Linked DNA regions of Homo sapiens: region 2 is linked to region 1. Evidence: fine-mapped expression QTL. A gene starts in region 1. The other region holds a variant in brackets. All regions are shown on one strand. Distances are between the middles of the regions.

Evidence for each region. PIP is the estimated chance that this variant, and not a neighbour inherited with it, causes the effect. A credible set is the group of variants that fine-mapping cannot tell apart.
Region 2: its variant is the best candidate, but not a certain one, in a credible set for the expression of FBXL13 in whole blood (TOPMed, PIP 0.76).

Annotation. Positions count from the first base shown.
Region 1 is chr7:103,073,269-103,076,179 of GRCh38, reverse strand. FBXL13 (F-box and leucine rich repeat protein 13) reads left to right here and starts at 1,384. Exons shown (of 21, transcript NM_001394494.2): 1 at 1,384-1,484. The coding sequence starts at 1,410. ARMC10 (armadillo repeat containing 10) reads right to left here and starts at 1,040. Exons shown (of 7, transcript NM_031905.5): 1 at 769-1,040; 2 at 299-403. The coding sequence starts at 907. RefSeq lists an enhancer at 294-343 and a silencer at 614-1,453.
Region 2 is chr7:103,168,089-103,170,999 of GRCh38, reverse strand. No RefSeq gene overlaps it. Among named protein-coding and RNA genes, the nearest start is that of NAPEPLD, 20 kb to the right of the region's middle. The variant G/A (reference allele first, on the strand shown) is at 1,477.

The sequences.
Region 1 (2,911 bases):
GAATTAGAATTCTTCCTGCTATCCCATTAGCAAATTGCCCGTGATGTGTGAGGCAATTTAGTTTGTGCTTATTCAACAATGAAGCTGTTTAGCTCTCTTCTACAATTGTGGACAGGAGTTTCTTGGATGGCAGATATGATATTTTAAATTATTTCCCTAACAGCTTCCATGATGTGAAACATGCCTTTGGAGGGTTTTAATGTACCGATCAACTTTTGGACAGAAACCGAATCATGCATTTGTCCGCTGGGAGGGTGTGTCTCGCGCAGACAACTGTTCCCATTTCCAAAACACACACCAGGCTGCGAGGTCTTGGACCACTGTGACTCCCAGGTACCTCCCGTCTGAGGCCGGGCCGAGCGCCCGCACAACTGACCCTCTGACGTCCCTTCTTCCAGGGCACCTGCAAGCAGAGATTGACCTATGGCTCTGGGCCCCTCAACAGCCCTTCCACAATCGGGAGAATCCCTTTAGTTACACAAAGGCCCGGAGCAAGCTTTAAAATGAGAGGCCATCAACAGGTTTTTAAGAAATCTAATCCTCCGCTGTGACGCGGAGCTCAGGCAGGAAAGCCAGGGCAAGTTTTCATACCAGTATAGTCAGCAAAGGGGCGGCGGGGGCGGCGCAGCACCCTGCACTCACACAAGTACTGCCTCTCCCTCTAGCTCGGCTCCTCATTTTACCCCGAGCACACGCAAGCCACCACCCCGGCCTGGGGAGCCCCCCTGCCCAGTCCCCGCCCACCTGCCGGAAACCCCGGGGTCCCACCTGCGGACTTCGAAGAGCGTATCCCGAGCTCGCGGTCGCCCCGCCGCCGACCCCGGGTCAGCCTGTAAATGCAGTAGCAGGCGCCCGCGCCGAGCAGCAGGCCCGCCGCCACCCAGCCCGCGCCCCGGGGGCCACCCATGCTGCCGCCGCGGCAGAGCCGCAGCGCCGGGCCAGGGCAGGAGGCTCGCGGGGGCCAGCGCGGAGGTCTCCAGCGCACGCGGGCCTAGCCGCCACAGCAAACGCCACCTGACCTGGATGTGGAGAAAGGAAATGGGGTCTGAGCTCCGCCTCCCGGAAACGGCCTAGCTCAAAGCCTATAACCGCCCACTCCAGCCCGGCGCGTCCCGGCGGCTTCTCCCAGGCGAGGCGGGGCGGTGCGGGGCGCTGCACACCGGGAGGGGGGGGTCGGACGGTGCGCCCCACGCGGAGACGCCGGGGCCCGCAACCCAGAGCCGAGCTTCCCGTCTCTTCCCCCGGGGCGTGAAGCAACCATTCCTCCCTCCCGCCCCTGGCAGCGGAGCGCGGGGCGGTGCCACGCCCAGCCCCGCCCCCTGGTTGCCGGGACAACGCCCGCACGCGCCCGGCCCCTAGTCCCAGCGCGGGGAGGGTACTATCGCAGCTTCTCCGTCAGGCCTTGGGCCATGGCCTCGCTACGCAATGCCAACCCGAGGCTGAAGAACTACTTCAAGGAGAACTACATTCCTCAGGTCTGCGAGGTACTGGACACGCGTGGCAGCGGACACAGACCGTCGGTGGGGAGTTAGAAGGGGGAGGAGTCAGGAAAGACTTCCCGGAGGAGGGACTAGGTTTCGGGATTGGGGAGGAGTGGAGGGAAGGCGGGGCAGAATGCGAGAAAGTGAAGTCAAATTCGGACTTGTAGGCGATCAGGGCTGAAGACGCTGATTAGAGAGAAAACAGAGGGTGATGGTGGCTGCACGTGGGGAATGGGTGACATCTCCCAGGGGGAATGAGCACAAGGCCCAGATCGGAAACCCCAAACTCAGATTTTAAGGTTTGGACAAGAAGTACCTGAGGAGTGGAGGAGTGAGAAAGAAGTGCCAGAGAGCCTGAGGAGGAAAATCAGCAGACTGGCATTATGAAGAATGTTGTCAGAAGTAGGGAGTAGGCACTAGTCACCTAAGATAAGGAGCTGGATTCTGCCCAAGGTGAGCCTGAGGTTTCCATGGAGCCGTGAGGGCAGAAAATAGATGGAGGTTAGCGGAGGGAAGAGTGGAAGCTGAGACCTTTGGTCAGTGTAGTCAGCCCTTTGTGAAGGTAAGGACCCTCTCAACCAGGATTGCCTTTAGACAACAGGAAGGACTGCCCTCCTACTGCCGTTATAAGAGTAGGGAAGGAAGACAGGAAGGGGATAGACATTAGGTTTTGTAGGTTTGGGGGTAGGAAGCTGAGAACATTTGCCTTTGTTGACCTCTTTTTTTCTCTACAAATAGTTGGTGAGATATTTACCAAGAATGTGCGTGTTTGAGTGGGGATGGGGATGTTGGTGCAGTAGGAGGTTCGAGCAAAGATACGTTATGTGGAGAATGAGGGAGAGAGATGTCTAGGGAAAGAAAGAGGAGGTCCTACCTGAGGGTAGTAACGCTCCTAGGCGGTTGGGAGGGCAATTTGGTAGAGACCCCCCACCCGTCTCTTTTTTGGATGGTAATTGAGAAATATTTATTAAGATGTTAAATACATGTACCCTTTAACCAAGCATTTCTACTTCTAGGGATCTACTTTAGAGAAATACTTGCACATGTGTTCAGGAGGATGTACAAGGATATTCATTATAACTTTGTTTCATAGTAAAAATAGTAAATGACCTAGAGTGACTAAGCGAATGAGGCATTATGTAGAATAAAGTATATCTGTACCTACTAAGAAGAAATGTCCTCCAAGACATATTATTATTATCATCATTATTATTGAGACACGGGGTGTTGGTCTGCCACCCAGGCTAGGGTGTAGTGGCTCCATCCTAGCTCACTGCAGCCTCAAACTCCTGGGCTCAATTGATCCTCCCACCTCATCCTCCCAAGTAGCTAGGACTACAGGCATACACCACATGGCTGGCTCCCAACACATATTATTAAGTAAAAAAGAAAAAGTGCAAGTTGCTTAGCAACTGTCCATTCTGCTCTAG
Region 2 (2,911 bases), 95 kb before region 1:
CCTCTCCCTCTCCTTTTCCTGCCCTTTACTGTACAAGAATGCCTTGAATAAAGAAAACCTATAAAACAGAAATATAAATTTGGAAATGATTATTTAATTGGCCTTTGATTTCATGACAGGCAAAAATAAGTTGGCCCTCATATTTTTTTTTTTTTTGCAAAAAATGATACTTTAAATACTAAAGGATTTAAAGGATACTTGGTAAATATTTGTTGGCTTAATTCATGAAACATGTGGCTGTTATGTGAAAATACATTATCTGTATCCCAGGAATAAAAAGAAAATATCCTTTTTCTGGCCTAGAGCATAATACTTCAGCCCTGAGGGCCCCACTCACTCACCTGGTATTCTATGTATATGGTGCTCCCTGCGGCAGCCCTGGGCTCATTACAAGTAACACTGATTCTTAGGTGTTTTATGCCTTTTTACCAATCTCTTTAGAGGAAGCAGATGAACATTTAGAATTTTAACAGGGAATGTTTACCTGAGGACAGAAGCTAGATGAAAAGATCAGGTGGCACCCAGAACACATATTTTTCCTGACAATCCAGCCAAATGTGAATCCAGGGACTCAGTGTAATTCATCAGAACAAAGCAACACTGCGGGCAGGTTGTGTGGTACCCACTTGCCTTTGTAATACCGCCATGCTCAATTCCAAACACAGCCTGTCAACTCATCAGAGCAGGACTGGTGAGAAAGCCAAGGCTGGCAGCAGGTTTGGTGCCACCTCTTGGTGCCAGAGCCACCTGCACACAGCATGGAGCAAGGGAATAGCCAGGGTGCCCTGGAGCCAGTTCCTTCCAGAAGCCAGCAGCCCTAGGGCTCCTCTATCCCACTCCCAGCAAGAAGAAGCTGCCATGAATATGAAGGTGGGAAGAGGAAGCTCAGACCAGGGGAAGGCTTGGGCTGTGTGTTAATTCTTCTCTGGTCCCCAGGGCCCAACACAGTTGTCTGGTTAATACTGCATTAAATGCAGTGAATTGATTCTAGCCCCAGTTCCACTAAGAAATTCCTGAGTGCTCTCAGAAAGTTACTTCTCTTGGAGCCTGCAGCACAACAAACCACTCAGAGCTTGGTGCTATAAAACAACAGCAAGCATTTGTCATTACTATCTTTCACTTCTTTAGGGGTTGATGGGGCTCAGCTAGGTAGTTTTTGGTCCTCATGCAGTGACAATCAGACAATGGCTGGGGCTAGAGTTCTCTTGAAGGCCTTTCCATTCATACTCTCTGGTGCCTGACTTGGGAAGACCTAAATAGCTGGCGGCTGGAACAGCCGGGGCTCCTCAGGCACCTCTGTCTATTACAGTGTGCTCCCTCCAATGTGGACTCTCTGTCAGGGTAGCTGGACTTCTTACATGAAGTCACCTGTCCCCGGAGACAGGCTGGTGGAAGTCAATAACCCATTGTGATCCAGCTTCACAAGTCAAGCAGTGTCACTTCCACCATATTATATGCACGGAGACAGTCAAAAGC[G/A]CTGCCCATGTTCCAGGGCAGGAGATAGATCTCTCTTCTTGATGGGAAGAATGTTAAAGAATTTACAGACTTGCTTTGAAACAGAGCCTTAATTTCTCCATATCCTCTAAATGAGGATAATAATACCTCATGGGCCAGATTTTGTTGATGAGGGGGATGGAAGGATACTTGGGGCTAATGCAGATGAACTCATGTGGTGAAAATTAAGGTGCAGTCCAAACATAAGAGATGGACAATTAGAGCTGTCTGGAGTTACAAATCCTTAAACCGGAACATGTTATAATCTTTCAGAGGCCGAAAAAGTTTTCTTGTTGGCATTCTTCTCTTCAATAAATAAATCACCTGAGTTGCAAAAATACAATTTTCCCCATAAGATCAACAATAAAGCCATTTTGAATGAGAGAGAAATATAGCCTGTAAGTAATTTTTGCTTTTTCCTAATTTTCTCTTGATCAAAATAAGGTTGCCCACCATTGCTATGCATCTTGTTACACTCACTGCCAAGGCTCAGTGTCTTGCAAATGTTGCTGTGCATAAATGTTTATAGTGGAAAGGATTTAAGAACAAAAATGAGTTGTCATTGGCCTATTTAACATTAAGTACAATTGACATCTGTACTCTATTTGTATAAATAAGATAGGTTAAAATTTGTTCTGTACCCACTTCCATTATAATGCCAATAACAAGTTATTACACTCATTTATTAGTTGGAACTCTTGGTTCCAAAGAAAAAAAAAATCAAGGCTAAAACCACAAAAAAGGAAATGTAGGGGGCCTCAAGCACTGGGGTGTTGGAATGCGGCTGGAGGGTCTGGAACCAACAACTGGTGGGAAGCAAGGCTCTCCAGGATTCATTCAGTCATCTAATTATTCTTTCTCCCTCCTCCATCCTTGTTTCTCTCTCTCTGCTGCACTCTACTCTGCACACTGATTATTTCTATATTTCTACTTCTCAGCCAACATAACAAGCAGAAGTGGCTGCTCCATAATCTTCAGTTTTGAGTCTGTCATTCACCAGGCTTGCCCAGGCTAAATTAAAACTCTTAGTTAAAGGTTCAAATTCCTGGGAGAGACAATGTTGCCTGGTTGTGCAGGGGCCATTATCCATTCAGGGCTACATCACATAATACAATTGTGGTGCAGGCTCCTGGGCATAGAAGGGGAAAGAGTGCTGCTGGGGAGGGCCTAAGGGATTCTTGGTGAAATGGAGAGCCACTCCAGAGGGTGGTGGCTACAACGTATTTACACACACACTTTCCTGCTCTGCTAGACTTGTTTTGTTCTTCTCTATCCTCAATATCAAGCCCAATCCATAGTAGGTAGTCAATGCATGCTAAGCTTCATGAGTGGAAGTTTTTACAGTCACATTTCTTAAACAGCAAAAGCACCTAGAGTCTGGCGCACTTTGAGAATCTTGTGATAATTAGCACACTAA